4 linked regions of the Homo sapiens genome follow. The protein of the gene in region 1 purifies or fractionates together with the protein of each later gene. This does not show direct contact. Each region holds a gene or a part of one and is shown in the gene's direction. Other genes may lie near its edges. The genes, in order: DGKQ, KYAT1, EIF4H and EHD4.

Region 1 (4,386 bases):
ACTGTGTCCCCACAGGGTGGGCGTGGCCTACGTGTCCGTGCGAGTGACCCCGAAGAGCACGGCCCGCTCTGTGGTGCTGGAGGTCCTGCCGCTGCTCGGCCGCCAGGTGCGTACCCTGTGCCTGCTCCCCATGCCGGCCAGACTCGGTGGGGGGTCGCTGTCCCCAGGAGGCCAGGCCACCATCCCAGCCCAGGCGTGGCTGTCCCCGCGGGTGTCCTGAGGTGGTGGGGGCCTGCCCAGACCCGATGCCAAGCTCTACCCCAACAGGCCGAGAGTCCCGAGAGCTTCCAGCTGGTGGAGGTGGCGATGGGCTGCAGGCACGGTGAGTAGACAGCCCGTGCTGGGCGTGGCGGTCCCTGCACCTTTTGGGTTTGGACCTGCTGCCCAGGCTTTCCTGCAGGGTGGTGCCGGACATCAAGGCCGGGCTCTGCCCTCCTGACCAGCTCCACCCTGCATCCCCACGGGCCCTGGGGGCTCCGGGCAGCTGCTTCCAAGGTGGGCGAGGAGCCGGGTGCTGACGGCCTGTGCCCTCACCTCTGCAGTCCAGCGGACGATGCTGATGGACGAACAGCCCCTGCTGGACCGGCTACAGGACATCCGGCAGGTGAGTGGGTGTGGACGCCGGCCCCCAGGGAACCAGCAGCCCTCAGCCACAGCCTCTGCCCCACAGGGTGGGTGTGCCCCAGACGCCGAGTTCTCCTTGGCTAGGCAGCGGCTGTCCTGGCTGACAGGGCAGCGCCCTCGTCATGAGCTACTTGGTCCCTGCAGGGAGGCCTCGAGCTGCAGATCTCCCCGAGGTCCTCGAGGGGAACGGACAGGGGTTGTCCACAGCAAGGAAGCCTCTGTGGCCCCTTTCCTCGTTTTCCTGTTGACTTAATTCCTGGGAGTGTTCCTGATGCCCTGTTTTGCTGTTTTGCGGGTGAGGAGACAGAGGGCCTGGTGCGGTGGTGCCGTTCTCCCCGGCCCAGCATCCCCGCCCCTCTCCCTGCAGATGTCTGTGCGGCAGGTGAGCCAGACGCGGTTCTACGTGGCAGAGAGCAGGGATGTAGCCCCGCACGTCTCCCTGTTTGTTGGCGGCCTGCCTCCCGGCCTGTCTCCCGAGGAGTACAGCAGCCTGCTGCATGAGGCCGGGGCTACCAAAGGTGTGACCACTGTGGCTGGCCGTGGGCTGCTGGCACGGGGCAGGGTCGAGCGGCAGGCAGTGGGGCTGCAGTGCTGAGCCGGCTCCTGCCTCTCCTTGAGCCACCAAGGCCTGAGCTCCGGGTCCAGCCCACGTCTCTTCCTCCAAGAGGCTCTGGAGCCTCTCGCCCTCTGTGGCCGTTCCCTGCGGTGCTCAGCCTCTGCCTCTCCCTCTCCCTCTGGGGGGTCCTGTACCTCCAGGGAGCTGGGAGTCCTGCTCCTGGAGTGGGGCAGGGGTACTTCCTGGGGAGGCTGCCTTTGGGGTGAGATGTCACCCCTGGACAGGCGGAGGGGCTGTCCCTGGCCCCAGTGCTGTGTGTCCTTCGCCTCCCACCGCCCTGACCACAGCCTGCCTTTGCAGCCACCGTGGTGTCCGTGAGTCACATCTACTCCTCCCAAGGTGAGCTGCCCTGAGGGACGTGGTCACATGAGGCCCAGGGGTGTTCCTGGGGTGAAGTGGGACAGCCCTGGCCCTCACGTAGCACCTGACCTTTCCCTTGGGCAGCCCTGGGCTGGGGAAACGTCCTGGTTTGGTTCCTGCCCTGGCACCGTGGGGGCCATGGGACAGGCTCCCCCTGAGTCCTGGGCTCCTGCCGCAGGCGCGGTAGTGTTGGACGTTGCCTGCTTTGCGGAGGCCGAGCGGCTGTACATGCTGCTGAAGGACATGGCTGTGCGGGGCCGGCTGCTCACTGCCCTGGTGCTCCCCGACCTGCTGGTGAGTGTGCGGTCAAGCCGGCTCTTCACACACCCCAGGGGGTGGCCAGAGGGAGGTCGGGGTCTGCAGGTGCACAGGCCCCACAGCCAGACTCGCTGTTTTCATCTGGCATCACTTCCTTGAATTCACTGGGGGCTTGTAGGTGCCACCTTGTTTGTGCCTCACAACAGCAGGAAGGACTCTGTTGCCCGTTTTACAGCAAGGGGCCTGAGGTCAGAGGGTCAGCGCTCATCCGAGGCTGCCCAGTAGGTGATACCAGCTCCGTGGGGCACCGTGGGGTCAGGCCCAGCTTCCACGCTGCACCTGAGGCCTCCACCCAGTAGGGAGGCCCACAGGACGCAGCTCCTGGATGTGCCGGGCCCCGCTGCGGCTGCCTCGCCAAGGGCCAGAGCGTGTTTGTGACCAGCTGTCAGGATCCCAGGCATGGCCCTCCCGGTACAGCCTCAGCCTCACTCCCCCTGCCCGGGAGGCCTTAGGGCCTCTGCTCTCTGCCTGGAGCTCCCCAGGCCAGTCAGTGCAGCTCCCAAACTTTGAACGCTGCCCTTCAGACCCACAGTGCCCAGAAGAGGGGGCACCTGGCAACAGGGCAGGGCTGGGGGAAAGGGGGATCTGGAACATGGAGACAGGGCAGGGCCGGGGGGAACGGGGGTCTGGTCCGTGGAGACAGGGCAGGGCCGGGGGGAACGGGGTTCTGGCCCATGGAGGGGCTGGAGCCTGGGACTCCACGCTGCACACCGTGCCTTCACATTGGCCTCTCGTCCTCAGCCCATCTAGCCCCCAAAGGGTCCCATGAGGACCCCCCAGGTGTCCATGGCTGTTCTACCCCTGAACCTTGACCCTTGATCGTGACCCCAGTCCAGGCGAAGCAGAACTCGAGCAGAATGAGTTGTCTGTGGCTGGGACGGGAGATGCCTGTGGCTCCCTGCTATGCCTCCCTCCTGTGCCCCTACACCCGGCCTTGCCTGGCTCAGGACAGGGTGGCCATCCCCACTGTCCCGAGGATGCAGCCCCCACCCCAGCTCCACTCGCTCTGTGGGCAGAGCCAGGTTTGGGGCCGACACGCGCTTTCTCTCTCCCGTCAGCTGCCTGCCCTGGGGTGAGTGGTAAGTGGTGACCGCAGGCGGCTCTGCCTGCCAAGTGGGTCACGAAGCCCCGAGTGTGTCCTTGCCCCCAGCCACGGCCGGCCCCTGTGCCGCTGCCCACCCTGTGTCTGCACCCAGCCTGTGTGTCTCCTGTTGCCCAGCCTTCCCCGCTGTGGGGGCCCCAGCCTCCTGTCGTAGGGTCCCTAGCCTCCTGTCGTAGGGATCCCAGCCCTGAGCCCGCTGTGTCTAGATCCCTGGGTACTGTTTCTTGGGGTTGTGTGTGGGGAGATGGACTCTGTCCTGTGGTCGAGGGACGCCGCGTGCCACCCTGTGAGTTAAGAGCTTTTCTCGGCTGCTGTGTAGGTGGGCGGTGGCCTGGGAGCCGCCATCCTCCAAAGGTGTGCACCAGAGGCCCCCCAGGGGACAGGCCTTGGTCTCGCTGGCACAGAGTGCCACGCAGAGTCCCACGTGGATTTCCAGCCTGGACTCGCGCTGCATGGCCCAGGCGGGTGTGGTCTGTTCACACGCAGCTCAGTGGGCAGGTCTGAGGCCTTTGTGCTGGGAGTGCCAGGCAGCCAGCCGGCTGTCCTCAGTGCCGCCCTGCTGGCCAGCAGCGAGATGGGGTGACCACGCAGCTCATGTGTGAGGCCTCAGATGTGAGGGTGCTGGCCACGCCTTCCTGGGGAGGGGGCTGGTCCAAGCCAGGTGGGCTCAGGGTTGGGGGCTGGGCACTGCCTGGCAACCCCAGCAGTGGGGACACCCCACCTTGGGTCCCCATCCTAACCCAGCCCCCTGTCTGTCAGCACGCGAAGCTGCCCCCAGACAGCTGTCCCCTCCTTGTGTTCGTGAACCCCAAGAGTGGAGGCCTCAAGGGCCGAGACCTGCTCTGCAGCTTCCGGAAGCTACTGAACCCTCATCAGGTCTTCGACCTGACCAACGGAGGTCCTCTTCCCGGGTGAGTCCAGCAGGACCCCTGGTCCAGGGCAGCAGCAGGGGCGGGAAGGGCCCCAGGAGGCTGCCACAGCTGTCTCGGCCGGCAGGAGCTCCACGGGGATCCCGTGCTGGGACCTTGAAGTCCTCCACACGGCCAGGACGGGCACTTGGAAGAGGCAGCCTGGGTGGGGGATGGGCTGCGCCCGCAGCTGGTAGAGGACACTTCCTGTCTCCCGCTAGGCTCCACCTGTTCTCCCAGGTGCCCTGCTTCCGGGTGCTGGTGTGTGGTGGCGATGGCACTGTGGGCTGGGTGCTTGGCGCCCTGGAGGAGACACGGTACCGACTGGCCTGCCCGGAGCCTTCTGTGGCCATCCTGCCCCTGGGCACAGGTGGGCTCAGCCGTGCAGCCGAGGAGGGGGCCTCAGGGTCTACCCCTTCCTGTGCAGCTTTTGCCGAGGCCTGGGCTGGCTGTCCTCG
Region 2 (4,491 bases), on another chromosome or scaffold:
CTCATTCCCCAGCTTGCAGCTGGGGGCCTCCTGGTGCTTTTCTGGGACTTCGAGTAAGTCATTTCCCCTCTCTAAGCCTCAGTTTCCCCACCTGTAAAGCTGATGCCACCTCCTCCAAGGCTCCCGCGAGGCTATCTGCCTATCTGTTGTGTGTTCCTTTAATGTATGGGAGTGAGATTGTGGTTTTTGAATCTGGGTCCTGTGCCAGGAGGAATAAGTGGTGAGATACCTACTGTTTGTGTCACTCAGGTCTTCCACCAACCCCTCCAGCCTGTAAACCTGCCGTCTGGACTCCAGAAGTCATTTCTCTCTCCTCTGCCAATTCCTAAGCCCAGGGGGACTGTGTCTGAGTGACGCAATTGTTAGATCTCCTCAGACAGGCTGTTCTCTCCAGGAAAACATTGGCTCAACAAATTGTCACCAAACATTTGTCTTCAGGGAATTCTGTTTTTTTTCTATCAAAAAAAATTTGGATTCATTATATAATAAGAGATTTTTCATTTTGCTTGGTTACTAATTTTATGGAAAGCCTGGTAGGTTTAAATGTTAATAGCTTGTTGACTGGGTGTGGTGGTTCATGCCTATAATCCCAGTAATTTGGAAGGCTGAGGTGGGACTATCGCTTGAGCTCAGGAGTTCGAGACCAACCTGGGCAACGTGGTAAAACCCCATCTCTATCAAAAATACAAAAATTAGCTGGGTGTGGTGGCACGTGCCTGTGGTCCCAGCTACTCTGGAGGCTGAGGTACAAGAATCGCTTGAAACTGGGAGGCAGAGGTTGCAGTGAGCCGAGATTGTGCCACTGCACTCCAGCCTGGGCGATAGAGCAAGACTGTCTCAAAAAAAAAAAAAAGTTAATAGCTTGTTGTCATTGACAAGTGGCTGTGAGCCAGGACCCACAGTATATTCTCTGTGGATTCTTGTCACCTTCATTGTACAGATGAGGAAGCTGAGCCCCCAAGAGGCTGCGGCCTGGCATGACCAAGGTCCCATAGCTAGTTTATGGTGGAGCTGGGACTATTTGATCCAAGTCCAAGGTTTGGTCTTCTGTGGTTATTCATGCACTAGACTGGTCTTCCTGGGCATGGTATCCCCAGTTCTGTACCCTTTCTCTAGAGGTGCCACGATGTGTGTTGTCTCAGTAACTGGGAGTCTCCTGGCATTTTAAGCCCAGGGATGCTAAACATCCTTCAAGGCTCCAGATAGCTCTCCCCAGTGAAGAACTGACTCATCTCAAATTCTAAGTGTGCCCCTATTGAGAAGCTCCAAAACCGAATGTCATAATTGACTTGAGTGATGTGACGTGGGGCCACCCTGGGAAGGCATGGTCACCTCGCCTGCCCTTGTAAGCAGCCATGCAAGGTGAAGTTGGACAAGACATGGCTCCTGTCCCCAAGGGGCTGGTGGTCTCCTGTCAGCCCTAGCACCCGCCTGAGAGGAGATTTCACGGGACAGAATTTGGACTTTGGAAATAGGCAAACCAGGGTTTGAATCACAGCTGGAGCTCTCTAGGCTGAGTGAGTTTTCCTTGTTCTCCTTTTGAGCAAAATAGAGTAAATAATACCATCCTAATCAGCTGTGATGAGGATTAGAGAATTTAGCATGGGGTTGGGGGAGAGGGTCAGGCACAGGTAGGTGCTTTCTGAGTTCAGCAAAGGGCCTGGGTGGACACAGAAGCTTCAGAGAGGAGGTACAGGTGGGGCTAGGCCCTGCTAGGGATTTTGGATTGGAGGGTATGCCAGGCAGGGGAAACAGCTTGAGTGAAGATGGGCAACATTTATTCAAAAGCAAAGGGTGGCTGGGCACAGTGGTTCACACCTGTAATTCCAGCAATTTGGGAGGTCAAGGCAGGCAGATCACCAGAGGCCAGAAGTTCAAGACCAGCCTGGCCAACATGGTGAAACCCCATCTCTACAAAAATACAAAAATTAGCCGAGCATGATGGTGGGTGCCTGTAATCCCAGCTACTCGGGAGGCTGAGGTGGGAGAATCACTTGAACCCGGGAGGCAGAGGTTGCAGTGAGCCGAGATCGTGCCATTACACTCCAGCCTGGGTGAAAGAGTGAGACTCCATCTCAAAAAAATAAAAATAAAAATAAATTAGCTGGGCGTGGTGGCGTGCACCTGTAATCCCGGCTACTTGGGAGGCTGAGGCAGGAGAATCACTTGAACCCGGCAGGTGGGGGTTGCAGTGAGCCAAGATTGTGCCACTGCACTCCAGCCTGGGTGACAGAGTGAAGAGAGAGGCTCTATCTCAAGAAAAAAAAAAAAAAAAGGCCGGGTGCCGTGGCTCATGCCTGTAATCTCAGCACTTTGGGAGGCCGAGGCAGGCGGATCACGAGGTCAGGAGATTGAGACCATCCTGGCTAACATGGTGAAACCCTGTCTCTACTAAAAATACAAAAAAAATTAGCAGGGCGTGGTGGCGGGCGCCTGTAGTCCCAGCTACTCGGGAGGCTGAGGCAGGAGAGTGGCGTGAACCCGGGAGGTGGAGCTTCCAGTTAGCTGAGATCACGCCACTGCACTCCAGCCTGGGCGACAGAGCCAGACTCTGTCTCAAAAACAGAAAAAAAAAAAAAAAAAAGAACAAAGGATGACTGGGTGTGGTGTCTCATGCCTATAATCCAAGCTGTAATCCCAGGACTTTAGGAGGCCAAGACCAGAGGATCACTTGAGCCCAGGAGTTCAAGACCAGCCTGGGTAACATAGGGAGACCCTGTCTCTATTTTTTTTTTTTTTTAAAAGCAAAGAATTTGAGCTGGGGGTTGGGGCATGCACTTATAGTCCCAGATACTCAGGCGGCTGAGGCAGGAGGATCACTTGAGCTCAGGAGTTCAAGGCTCCTAGGTGACAAAGCGAGACCCTATCTCTAAAATAAAAAAAGAGTAAAGGGAGGGAAGGTGGAGGCTGCCAAGCCTGGATTCCAGCCGGCTCCAAACGCCAGGCTGAGGAGGCTTTGGACTTTGTCCAGTGTCACCACAGGCTTCTGGGCAGAGCTGGTCCAATGGGGGTTGGGGGACAGTGGCATAGCTGACATCAGCCCCTGGGTTATTGACATCAGCCCCTGGAATGCATCAGTGATGCATTCCACGGGCCCAGGGGTCATCCACTGCCTTCGGGTCAAGCAAATGGCCAGTAGCTGCCCAGGCTGATAGAGGTGTGTGTTGGAGGGGGGCACAGGCCACTGGCCCTCGGCCCCTGGCCTGGCAGCAGGGAGGCCTCAGATCTTAGATGCCTGAGAGCTACCCCAGAAGGGTCCTCGGCACAGCTATGGTCCCCATGCCTAGTGGTGCTGGGCCTCCTCGGTGCTGCCAGATCACCTGAGCTGCCTCCATTGCAGCAGTTATCCCACACATTTTTTTTTTTTTTTGAAGCGGAGTCTTGCTCTGTCACCTGGACAGCTGTCAGGCTGGAGTGCAGTGGCTCAATCTTGGCTCACTTCAACCTCTGCCTCTCAGGTTCAAGTGATTCTCCTGCCTCAGCCTCCCGAGTAGCTGGGACTACAGGTGCCCACCACCACACCCGGCTAATTTTTGTATTTTTGTAGAGACGCGGTTTCACCATGTTGGCCAGGCTGGTCTCGAACTCCTGACCTCAAGTGATCTGTCTGCCTCGGCCTCCCAAAGTGCTGGGATTACAGGCGTGAGCCACCACGCCAGTGAGCCAAGGTCACACAGCTGCACTCCGGCCTGGGCGACACAGCAGGACTCCATCTCAAAAACAAAAACCAAAAAAAAAAAAAAAACAAAAAAAAACAAATTGAACATAAATGGAATAATGGAAGAAATAGCTAGCTGTGGGGATGGCAACTCTGCAGCTGTTCACAGTTTGGGAAACCTGAGATCTGCATCCAGAGAAACTTCTTGAAGGCAAACTTATCAACATAAATGAGGAAAGTGGTTCTAAAGAAAAAGATAATGACCCAGAGGAAATAATACCAGCAAAACTTCACATTAAAGGAACTCCCTGGGCTGAGCGCAGTGGCTCACGCCTGTAATCCCAGCACTTTGGGAGGCCGAGGTGGGCAGATCACTTGAGGTCAGGAGTTCGAGACCAGCCTGGCCAACATGGTGAAACCCCATCCCTACTAAAAATACAAAAATAAGTCGGGCATGGTGGTGCGTGCCTGTAATCCCAGCTACTCAGGAGGCTGAGGCAGGAGAATCGTTTGAACCTGGGAGGCAGAGATTGGAGTGAGCCGAGATCACGCCACTGCACTCCAGCCTGAGTGACAGAGCGAGACTCCGTCTCAAAAAAAAAAAAAAAAAAAAGGCAGGATTATCTCACCACAAAATGTACAGAACAGGAACTCCCAGAGATATTTCACAACATTGAAAACAAAGGATGACTAAGGATGACTCGTATTCATCAAGACATAGAAGATGTCAGGTGCAGTGGCTTACACCTGTAATCCCAGCACTTTGGGAGGCTAAGGCAGGATGATTGCTTGATGCCAGGAGTTCAACATCAGCCTAAGCAACATAGTAAAAC
Region 3 (5,901 bases), on another chromosome or scaffold:
ACCAGCCTGGCTAACATGGCAAAGCCCCATCTCTACTAAAAACACAAAAACTAGCTGGGCATGGTGGTGGGCCCCTGTAGTCCCAGCTACTTGGGAGGCTGAAGCCATAGAATCACTTGAACCTGGGAGGTGGAGTTTGCAGTGAGCCCAGATTGCGCCACTGCACTCCCGCCTGGGCGACAGGGTGAGACTCTGTATCAAAAAAAAAAAAAAAAAGTCACTTTATCTTGTACTCCGACTGGATCCTTTACCAGTGCATACATTTGTAAGGTGTTGGTGATTTGGAAAGGACCTGTTCACTGAGCCAGGCAGAGCCATGCAGATGTTCCAGATGTTGGTACATTTTGTTATACAGTATCAAAGTCACATTCACCATAGCTGTTAGAAAAGTCTCTGAGTATTGAAAGACTGTCAGGCTTATGTTGATGGATACAGGTTTTCCGAAACTCTTTTTTGCTTGAAAGCTTAAATTTTACCATTGGCAACAAATACTGTTATTTTGGCCAGGTGCTGTGGCTCATGTCTGTAATCCCAACACTTTGGGAGGCCATGGCAGGAGGATCACTCTAGCCCAGTCTGGACAATATGTCCAGACCTGGTCTTTTCAAAAATAAAATTAGCTGGTGTGGTGGTATATGCCTATAGTCCCACCTACTTGGGAGGCTGAGGCTAGAGGATCACTTGAGTCCTGGAGATTGAGGCTGCAGTGAGCAGTGATTGCACCACAGCACTCAAATCTGGGCAACAGAGCAAGACCCTGTCTCAAAACAAAAAACCCAAATACTGTTCTTTTACTTCAAGGAACAGACTTAACTTCATTTTTAAAAAACTTAGTACCCATGTCTGAATTAACCATAGTTTGTTCTATAGAAAGAACAGCTAGTTCAGCTTGTAGCTCAAGTGCTTTTCCTGCAGCAGCCATCATGCTTGTGTATGCAGCAGAAGTGCTTTGCGTGTTTCATAACATAGGGTACTAAAAAGTGGGTCACGATTCATTTTTACTGCTTTACCAAGGATATTCCTAATTGAAGCTGTGATTTTTCTTCCTATTTTAAATACTTCAAGTGCATGGTGGGAAAGCATGAGTAATGTAGTTTGATGCCCCTGCCTTCGTTTGTATTAACACAAAGACCTGTTGTGAGATCAGTATAGGTCTTTGCTTTATAAATGTGGAATATTGTGAACCATTCTGGGAACCATATTTTAAGGCATCAGCACACTGGAGCCTATGAAGAAGAAGGTGATAGTGGGGATGGCCAGGCTCTGAAACTTCATCTTAGGAGGAAGGGCTGAGCAGCTTCAGTGAGGACCTTCGAAAGAAGCCTCAGCAGCAGTGATACAGCAGCTCTTAAGTCTCTGGGACTGCTGAGTGGAAGAAAGGTGTGGCCCTCCAGGCCAGAATAGGACCAAAGGATTACATCTTGGCCTTCTTCAGAGACTGCACAAATGTAAAGAACTGCTGCTTGAGCTAAATAATTGTTTTTTTAATAGAGACAGGGTCTCCCTTTGTTGCCTAAGCTGGTCTTGAACTAGCCTCAAGGGATACTCCTGCCTTGACCTCCTAAAGTGCTGGGATTGCAAGCATGAGCCACCACGCCCAGCCTCAACCATTTTTAAGTGTACAATTTAGTGGCATGGAGTACCTTCATAGTGTTGTGTAACCATTGCCACTATCTAGTTCCAGAACCTTTTCATAATCCAAACAGAAACTCTATACCCACTAAACAACTCCATTCCTTTCCCAGTTTTAACCTCATAAACATTTTGGCTATTTCTGTTACATCTATCTTCCCTACTTTTGGGTGGAGGTGTGGGCTAGGATAATTTAAGGCTAATCCTAGTCACCTATCCTTCTAAAATAGTTCTTATTTTTTTAAATTTTAATCCTCATCTTTGTGTTGGTAAATATTACATACTTTAGAGCAATTTTTGTTTCAATTTTTATGGCTACCGTAGTAGATGTATCTTATATATTCTTTCTTTGTTTTTTTTGTTTTTTGTTTTGTTTTGTTTTCTGAGGCAGAGTTTTACTCTTGTTGCCCAGGCTGGAATGCAGTGGCACTATCTCGGCTCACCACAACCTCCGCCTCCTGGGTTCAAGCGATTCTCCTGCCTCAGCCTCCCGAGTAGCTGGGATTACAGGCATGTGCCACCACACCTGGCAAATTTTGTATTTTTAGCAGAGATAGAGCAGAAACAGAGGGTTTCTACATGTTGGTCAGGCTGGTCTCGAACTCCCGACCTCAGGTAATCTGCCTGCCTCGGCCTCCCAAAGTGCTGGGATTACAGGTGTGAGCCACCGAGCCCGGCCTTTTTTTTTGAGATGGAGTCTCACTCTGCCTCCCAGGCTAGAGCTCAGTGGCGCGATCTCAGCTCACTGCAGCCTCCGCCACCACCCCTCAGCCTCCCGAGTAGCTGGGATTACAGGCACCTGCCACTGTGCCCAGCTGATTTTTGTACTGTTAGTAGAGATGGGGTTTCACCATGTTGGCCGGGTTGGTCTTGAACTCCTGACCTTGTGATTCATCCGCTTCAGCCTCCCAAAGTGCTGGGATTATAGGTGTGAGCCACCACACCCGGCCTCTTACATACTTTTCATACTTGAGTATGTTTCTAACAGATAAGGGCTTCTTTTTTTTCTTTAACCAACAGTTTTTCCAGTACCCAGTGTTCAGTTTTTCCCAGTTTTTGCAAAGATGACTTTGTATAGTTGGATTGTTTGAATATGCAAAACATTACAGAAAAATGTAGAAAATTTAGAACACGAACCAAAGCATAATATAGTGACCTGTATACCCATTACCTACTCTTTAAGTGACCACTCTTCTCTATACTACTATGGTTTATAATAGGTAGTATAAATGGTATTTATCAAAGGCTTGACCTTTGAAAGCTTAACCATTTTTGATGATTGTCAAAAACCCAAATGTTACCTGTTTGTAGATATGGGGTTTTGCCGTGTTCCCCACGCTGGTCTCAAACTCCTGAGCTCAAGTGATCTCCCCACCTTGGCCTCCCGAAGTGCCGGGATTGCAGGTGTGAGCCATGGCGTCCGGCCAGTCATTTTCTTTGGTTTACACTACTTTACCCTTCTGGGCCCTACTTTCCCCAAATGAGAGCTAGAAACTCCTCTGTTGGGAGGTTTAAATGAGATGTGTCTCATAATTTGGAGGCATAGTCTTGCCCTGTTGCCCAGGCTGGAGTGCAGTTGCACAATCACAGTCCCAAAGTGCTGGGACTACAGGCCGGAGCCACATGCCCATGCCCAGCCTTGAGCACTCAACTTTCTGTTGCATCTACTTACTGGATACATCCCTACCCTCATAACATCTACTCTGTACATTGGCTTCTTTTTATAGTTACCCTCTCTCAGTCTCCTTTGACACCTACAGATCTTTTCTGGCTCACCCTAAGGGTTCAGTATTGGCCCCATCTGCCATCTGGAAGTGGAGTCCCACTTCTGTTGCTCTCTGCTGTGCTGCATATCCTGGCTCCCAACTGCTCCACCCTGGTGAAACTGTTCTCATTGCTATCTTCCAGATTTTCTGCAGTCCTTTGCTTGTGACGTGATTTCTCCTTTCCAAATTATCAGCTCCTTGAGGGCAGAAACCGAGTCTTAGGTTTGTGCCTTCTCTACATTCTCTCCACCCTTCATAGACATGCAGATACGTGGTTGATTTGAGTAAGGAAAAGTGATTTGCCTGTCAAGGATTTTAGTCACACTTGGAGCCGAAAGTAGGGTTTCCTAAATTACTGAGGCTGTAATTGACTACTTTAATCTTTCATAATCAATAGACTGTCCCTAATGGGCAGTAGAAAGGACACTGCTCAGTAGTGGCAGGGAGTTTGCAGCACAGACCTTGACTTCAGGTGTCCTGAATTGGCACGCTCTGCTGATCTGTTCCTGTTCTACACGCACTCCTGCCAGCCCAGTGTAGCCTCAGGCCTGTTGGGTCTACCCAGGAGCATGGCAGAATTATATAGCACTTGGTACTTAGGAAATGTTTTTATGGTCAGTTTTAAACTTATAAAATCAAGATTGAAATATAACAGACAAGAAAACATAGGTACAGAGGTAATTTGGCAGAGGTCCTACATCAAGCTAGCTAAGGTGTCAAGTGAACCTGTTCTCCCATGTGTTGTTATTGATCTGTGTAGGAATGTACTGAATTTCACGAAACACAGCTTATTTATTTAGGTAGTAGTCCCCCAAACTTGAATCTAGTGAAAGGTGGCAGACATTTTAGCTCAGAGTTTTCTGACATTTGATTTTGTAAATGAATCGGTGGGTAACAGATCTGTGTCATCCTATGTGATGTGATGTGATGTCATCCTATGTGATGTGTACTCTGGGGTACTCACATCCTATGTGATGTGTCTCAAGTGACTGTCACACAGTGGACACTTTACCAGTGCTAGCTTGAATGAGGTCTACCTCCATGGCCCAGCCCTGCTGCCCCCTAGTGATTTCATTGAATGGGATGAAAAGGTAAAAAGTGCTTAAGACCTGTAGAAGGGACTACATCAGGTAGGGTATGGGAATATTTAGGACTACTTTGGTAATTATTGAAAAGTCTAGAGTATTAAGCCACTGGTGGTTTTGTGAGGCACGAGTGAGTTGAACAGTTTGGTGGGCTTTGGTGTATCTTTGCTCCAGAATTATATCACCAGTTAGCTGTTAGGTGCTGCCATTTGGTAACGTGCCAACTTTTCAAAAATGGTTTGCCCCAAACTAGATTTTTCTATCTTCTCCAAAGCCAGAGCCACCTTCCTGTCCTAGTGCATTTTTAGCAGTGCCCCGTCATCTTACTGGCATTCACCTGGGCTTCCTGTGCTCAATCAGGGGTCAAGTCTGGCCTGATCTCAGTTCCACAGTTCCTCTACTCTGTAAGTTCGAGCACAATTAGCAAGCCTTCGCACCTCCATTTTCCTTACTTAGCAACTACATCAAACACCCGAGAGTTTATCATCTCTCTTCATCCTCACCCTCCTTTTTAGTTTTTATGTATATGTTACACATTCATACACACAAACATACCTGCATATATACATGTGTTTTATACGTCCCACACAACTGTGAGCTGCTTACATACAAGACAGTCTTTTAACATCATTACGCATCACTAGATGTTTAATGTTGAGTAATGAATTTAAACTGTTTTTAACATTGACCCTCCATTTTTATGGTTTTCCACATGTTTATACTGTATCTTGTTTTTTGTTTGTTTGGTTTTGTTGTTGTTTTTTGTGCTTTTTTGTTTGTTTTTTGTGTTTTTTTGTTTTTGTTTTTTTGAGATGGAGTCTCGCTCTGTAGCCCAGGCTGAAGCGCAGTGACACAGTCTCAGCTCACTGCAAGCTCCACCTCAGCCTCTGAAGTAGCTGGGATTACAAGTGTGTGCTACCACACCTGGCTAGTTTTTGTATTTTTAGTAGAGACGGAGTTTTACCATGTTGGCCAGGCTGGTCTTGAACTTCTGGCCTCAAGTGATCCACCCACCTTGACCTCCCGAAGTGCTGGGATTACAGGTATGAGCCACTGTGCCCCGCCTTTTTGTTGTTGTTGTTGTTTCTTCAGTTGGAGACAGTCTCCTTCTGTCACCCAGGCTGGAGTGCAGTGGTGCCATCACAGTTCACTGCAGCAACAACCTCCTGGGCTCAGGTGATCCTCCCACCTCAGCCTCCCAGGTAGCTTGGGACTACAAGTGTGGACCATCACTCCCGGCTAATTTTTTGTATTTTTTATAGAGATGGGGTCTTACTGTGTTGCCCAGGCTGGTCTTGAACTCCTGGCTTTAAGTGATCCTCCCGCCTCAGCCTCCCAAACTGTTGGGATTACAGGCATGAGCCACTGGGCCCGGCTTTATACTGTAACTCATATATTTATTATCCCGTCCTAAATAG
Region 4 (5,901 bases), on another chromosome or scaffold:
ATACACACACACACACACACACACACACACACACACACACACACACACAGAGCCTGGGCGCAGTGGCTCACACCTGTAATCCCTACACTTTGGGAGGCCAAGGCGGACAGATCACTTGAGCTTAGGAGTCAAGAGACCAGCCTGTGCAACGTAGTGAAACCCCGTCTCTGCAGAAAATCCAAAAAAATTGGCCAGGTGTGGTGGTGCATGTCTGTAGTTCCAGCTACCCGGGAGGCTGAGGTAGGAGGATTACTTGAGCCCTGGAGGTGAAGGTTGCAGTGAGCCAAGATCGCACCACTGCACTCCAGCCAGGACAACAGTGTAAGACCCCGTCTCAAAAAAATATATACACGCACACACAACAGAGAAATGTCTCTTTTCTTCCAGCAGTGAAATGGGTATTCCTGTGCTCACAAGCTGAATTGGGTTTTTCTGGTCACCAGGTGGTATTGGAGGGCTGTTGTGGCCTCCAGGAGCAGTCTCCCTGGGCAACTTCCCCATTCACACCCCTGGTTATGCCCTGTATCCCATGACCAAGGAGTAAGACAGCTGTTTCCTTGTACCCTTCAGATATTTCAGAAGGGAACTTGGTTTCTTGACCTAAATGAAAGTTATAAAGAAATACAGAGCCTGAGCTGTGGCCCAGTTGGGGCCTCTGTGCCTCGCTGGCTTCCTGAAGTTGCTACAGTGCCTTGCCACAGGGAGACGCTGCTCTTGAGCCCTGGGGCTCCACAGAGGCCTCCCTTGCCAGGCCTCTCCTGCTGGTCCCCTGTGAGCCCGATAATGTAGGGAGCAGGCTCTGGGACCAGAGCTACTCATGACAAAGCTAGCCTGGGCTGGCCAGGTCAGAAGACACCCAGGGTCCTCTGAGCTGGGGGAAGGCAACAAGGAAAGCATGATCTCAGGAGCAGCCATGGCCCACTGAGATGGAGGGTACAAGGAGGGCCAAGCCTTTGCTGAGAATCACCTGGACTCAGGTCTATGCCCAGTACCTTAGCACCACGGAAGGTGGGTGAGCAAGCAAGTGCAGGATCCAGCCAGCCACTCCAAGTGCTGACATAGGAGCAGGCTCTGTGCATGGTCTGCAGCCAGACCAGGTGTGTCACCCCAAGGGGAACGTGGCAGTGCCCAGGCAGGGATGCCCGCAACCCCAAAGCCCCAGAGGGGGTGCTACAGTGTGCTAATTAGCTCTTTTAGTTGTGCATCATGTTAGCAGCTCAGTCACCCTCTTGCCCCACTCTGGCCCATGGCTCCGGTCCAGCTCGACCCCACCACTGCTTCTGTTGAGTGGCACGGCTACCCTGCAATGGTGAGGGCAGAGGGCCAGTGTTACAGCCTTTCTGGGTACCTGCGTTTGGTGGGTCCCAAGCTTTTGTCCTGCATCCAAGAAGAATAAGGTCATGCTGACAATTGAAGAGTGATGAGGGTGGAGGATTTTACTGAGCAACAAAACAACTCTCAGTGAAGAGGGGATGGGAAGATTGGGTTGTCTCTCCTGAAGTCAGGTCATCTCCCCAGTGTGGCTGAGTCTGGGGTTTTTATAGGCACAGGATAGAGGAGTGCATGCTGATTGATTTGTGAGTATGCAAAAAAGGTTAAAACAAAGGCACCAGTCAAAGGTGGACATAACAGTGTAAAAACAATTAGGGAAGGGTAGGTATATGTAAAATAGGTGAAGGGTGAGGATCAATCAAAGAAAAGCAGCCAAATGGAAAGACAGGTTCTCAATCCAGTCCATGGATTTGACTTGTAGCTTGGCCTGCAGGCTTTAAACTGCCTTTGGCTTGAAGATAGGGTTTCACTGGAGACCCACCCCTATCTGCCTCAGCATTTTTCTGCCTCCTGCTGCTATCACTGTTCTAGGCCCCTGGAATAAATCAACACAAAAAAATGAACAAATGAGGCTGGACATAGTGGCTTACGCCTGTAATCCCAGCACTTTGGGAGTCTGAAATGGGAGGACTGCTTGAGTCCAGGGGTTGGAGAACAACCTGGGCAACATAGTGGGACCCGATATCCATTAAAATATTTTAAAATTAGCCAGGTGTGGTTGGCTCATGCCTGTGTTCCCAGCCAGTTGAGAGGGTGAGGTGGGAGGATGGCTTAAGCCCGGAGGTCGAGGCTGCTATGAGCCATGATCACGCCACTGCACTCCAGCCTGGGCGACAGAGGAGACCCTGTCAAAAAACAGAAAAAATGAACAAATGGGGGTAAAAATAATTGACAGCAACCCCACTGTAAGGACACATGTTTCTTGTTACAATATGAGCACTGTTGTGCTTCCATGTAATTGAATTATCTGATGTCTGATATTTAGTATCTCTCTCCCACGTAAGTCTGTGGCTCCATGAGGTCAGTGACCCATGCCCTGTTCACTGCCATATCCCCAGCATCTAGGACGTGGTGAGTGCTCAATTCACACAAGCCAAGTGAATTAGTAAGTTAGTGTAAGGCCATATCACAGCAGGCTCTCAGGCCCTGACGCAGCCTCGATTCCCACAGGGCTTATAGACCAGGGGTTCCCCGTGCCAACCCCTAGAAGCTGCAGGAAGAGGCCTCCTTGGGAAGTAGGCTGAGGCCCAGTCACATCACCCCATTCCTTCGGAGAATCCCCAAGGAACAAGGCAGCCTGGAGCCTGTCAGGAATGCTTAGTGTCACCTGATACTGCAAGCTAGCTTGCTGTCACCGGAAGCTTTGAGGGGCGCGTGTGTGGGTTAGGGCCTGTCCCATCCCTGAGGCTGTTAAAGTCTAACATCCTCTGTAACATAGGCCTTGACAGAGGGGGGACATACGCTTAGAAGTGACCACACTGTGATCTTTGCACATATCAGGGTCACGCAGAGAGCTCGCTGATGCCAGCTTTAGGTTGTTATTCTCCCTGTTCTCTCATGGAGCCAGCTGGTCAGAGTGACTCTTAGCTGTAGCAGTGAGAGGAGAGTGTATTCTGAAGGCCCTTCCCTGAGCTGGGACAGGCCCTGCAACCCACCTGTGTGGCTGCCTGTGCGTGCCTGGCACGCTCTGGGGAGGGACCGTGACTGACAGCACAGTGTTAATACTGCAGGACAAGATGAGCACCCGAAGGGCCACCGTTACTGCTGACTCTGCTCCTCTGACTGGAAGGAGAATTTGGACCCCTCAGCTCATGAGTTGGCAGCATTTCAACAGCAGAGGGCAGCAGAGTCAGCCCCATCTGCTCAGACCCTCTGGTGGATTTGAAAACTCTTCTGGTTAATGTTGGCAATTAATGGGCAAGGGACAGCCCCACCAGAGACGGGGCTGGGAACTGACCTTTGCCTCTTGAGAGGGAGCAATTCCAGGGTCCTGGCTTAGTGGATACAACTGTTGATGGGCAAATACCTTTAAGTTCCCCAGTGTGTATTCATCCCAATAAGAACTGTTTTGGACTCACCGTGGCAGAGGGCAGGGATGATGATGGTTTGGTGCTGATGTCAGGAGTGACATGATGATGGTTTAACTGGTGCCCCCGCAGTCCCCGGTCAAGCCTGGGGGGGACCACAGGGATGAGAATGGAGGGTTTATTTCTTGCCTGCCTCCCAGGACAGGAATAACTGCTGCCTCCTGTCCACCCCTGCAAATATGCGGCCACTCCCCCTGCCAGTTTTCCAGAGCTCTGCAGTCGGAATCCACGGCCCCTGCAGGCTGGTGGGAAGTTTGGGCAGGCATCACCCTCCTTTGTCTGCTGGGCCAGACACAGGGGCTCTGTGTGCGCTCTGAGCGCAGGCTCATTCTTAAGGAAATGGGGTAGGTGTTCACGCACCCGGGGAATCCAAACTCGTTGACCCAGCAGCACTGGGATTTTTGTGGGGGACGCCTGCTCCTCCACCTGCTTAGCGTTCTCTTTTCCATCTCCTTGGCCCATTGAGATGTTGGTGGCAGGAGCCCGAAGTGCAGGCCGCATTGTTTGGTGCTGATGTCAGGAGTGACATGCTAGTGACTGCGTTTGAGAGACCCGGCCTGCAGTACCCGCTGCTCTGAGCTGAGCAGGGGCCACACGCTGGGTTTGCATGGTTTGATGGCTGCTGACTTTACTTCCTGAGAATATGTCAGAGTCCCTTCCCTAGAGAAATGTCAGCCCGTTTAGCTGATATTTCTCAGCTCTGTCCCCCCACCAACTACCACCCAGGAATCCCCTTCCAAATGTCAGCCCAGAATTCCTGCCCTGCCACCCTAGAGACCATGATTTTGATTCTCTATTGGAAACAACCTGTGTGTCCAGCTATAGGGGACAGGGTTAATTAAGAATGGCCCAGCTCTACAGTCTAAGTTCAATATTCTGTAACTGTTAAGAGAAAGGTTATGTAAAAATTAATACCACAGAAATATATGACATATTATTTGTTAAGAGTGTGGTATTGTTTCAGTGTGTGTGTGTGTGTGTGTGTGTGTGTGTGTGTGTGTATGTATGTTAATGGCTAGAAATGCATGCCCAGATATGCTAGCAGAGGTTTTTGCCAGATGATGAGATTATAAATTATTTTAAATTTTTAGTTTTGCTTACCAGTTTTTTCTGTTTTTTTTTTTTACAAGAAAGCATGATATTTATGATAACACCAAGTTTTTTTTTTTTTTTCCTAGCAGCCTGTCACATTGCTTCTGTCCAAAACAGCGAGGTCTGACTTTTCCTTGCAAATCTCCCTGCCTCATCTCCAGAAAATTGCACACCTGCATGGCCTCTCTTTGGCCCCCTCTAGAACTGTACATACAGAAATACTTCACATATAAAACCTGCCATACCTGGAACATTTCTGCATTTATTTAATAAAACTACTGTTGAAGACACTTTTCATCAGATCTTTGAAGCCTGTCATGTAAAGCTCTAGGTAACTCTCGCAGTTCAGAGCCACAGAAAGTTTGTCTCTTGCAATAAACAAGTGTTTTCTCTCCTTAGACAGTGAGGGTCCCCAGGGGTCCCCCTGGGCAACTGAGCTCTTCTCCTTATACAGGCGGTAGTTTTCCTTAACCTTAGCCATCTGATGTGATTATTCCCTTCCTCTCCCTAACATATATATATACATATGTATATATATACATACATATATATACACATACATATATATACACATACATATATATACACACATACATATATGTATACACATACATATGTATATATATATATATGGGTCTAATGACCAGGCTGGTCTTGAACTCCTGGGCTCAAGCAGTCTTCCCACCTTGACCTCCCAAAGTGCTGGGATTACAGGTGTGAGCCACTGAGCCTGGCCCCTCTCTCCCTTTTAATGACTTGGCTTTTTTCTTTCTAATGACTTTATAGATTTCATGTTATCCTTTTCACTGTGTTATGTCAAGTCCTTTTTTAAACAATTGGAGTATCCTTCCTCCATTACAACATAAGCTCATTTAAAGCAGGAATTATGGCTTTTCATATTTATTCTGTATCCCCAAGCCCCAGAACAGGGGCTGGTGCAGAGTAAATGACAAATAAAAGTTGGTCGGGTAGGTGGATGGATGGATGAATTGTTGGCTGAATGGATGGATGGAGGGTTGGTTGAATGGATGGATGGTTAGTTGGAGGATTAGTTGGACAGGTGGGTTGTTGGATGGATGGATGGATGGATGGATGGATGGATGGATGGATGGATGGATGGAGTAACCAAGGAGAACCAAGGTAGGAAGGTCAGTTTCTACGGTGCCATCCACAGAGCCTCTGTGGCATCCTGTAGTCTGCCCCAGCCTGGTTGGGCAGTCACAGTGTTTCCCAGGCCCCCTCTAGAGCCTGTGCTTCTGCTGCTCTGTCTGCTGACAGGCTGCCTCACTCAACAGGTAGAGCTAAGATATGTCCTGACCTGGCCAGTGATACTCAGGCTTACCAGCTACGTTTATTCCCTCGTGCTCCCCAGCCCTACTCCCTGCTCTTA

The links.
Region 2: the proteins of DGKQ (region 1) and KYAT1 fractionate together in Homo sapiens (co-fractionation; one large-scale study listed by BioGRID). This does not show direct contact.
Region 3: the proteins of DGKQ (region 1) and EIF4H fractionate together in Homo sapiens (co-fractionation; one large-scale study listed by BioGRID). This does not show direct contact.
Region 4: the proteins of DGKQ (region 1) and EHD4 fractionate together in Homo sapiens (co-fractionation; one large-scale study listed by BioGRID). This does not show direct contact.

What each region holds. Positions count from the first base shown.
Region 1 is NC_000004.12:962,684-967,069, reverse strand, and holds part of DGKQ (diacylglycerol kinase theta), read left to right. Parts: intron 1-15; coding exon 16-106; intron 107-267; coding exon 268-322; intron 323-542; coding exon 543-604; intron 605-768; coding exon of another isoform or gene 769-991; coding exon 992-1,142; intron 1,143-1,540; coding exon 1,541-1,579; intron 1,580-1,778; coding exon 1,779-1,894; intron 1,895-2,976; coding exon of another isoform or gene 2,977-2,994; exon of another isoform or gene 2,995-3,618; intron 3,619-3,779; coding exon 3,780-3,931; intron 3,932-4,149; coding exon 4,150-4,298; intron 4,299-4,386. UniProt on the Homo sapiens protein: Diacylglycerol kinase that converts diacylglycerol/DAG into phosphatidic acid/phosphatidate/PA and regulates the respective levels of these two bioactive lipids.
Region 2 is NC_000009.12:128,874,503-128,878,993, reverse strand, and holds part of KYAT1 (kynurenine--oxoglutarate transaminase 1), read left to right. Parts: intron 1-4,491. UniProt on the Homo sapiens protein: Catalyzes the irreversible transamination of the L-tryptophan metabolite L-kynurenine to form kynurenic acid (KA), an intermediate in the tryptophan catabolic pathway which is also a broad spectrum antagonist of the three ionotropic excitatory amino acid receptors among others.
Region 3 is NC_000007.14:74,179,433-74,185,333, forward strand, and holds part of EIF4H (eukaryotic translation initiation factor 4H), read left to right. Parts: intron 1-5,901. UniProt on the Homo sapiens protein: Stimulates the RNA helicase activity of EIF4A in the translation initiation complex. Binds weakly mRNA.
Region 4 is NC_000015.10:41,901,973-41,907,873, reverse strand, and holds part of EHD4 (EH domain-containing protein 4), read left to right. Parts: intron 1-5,901. UniProt on the Homo sapiens protein: ATP- and membrane-binding protein that probably controls membrane reorganization/tubulation upon ATP hydrolysis. Plays a role in early endosomal transport.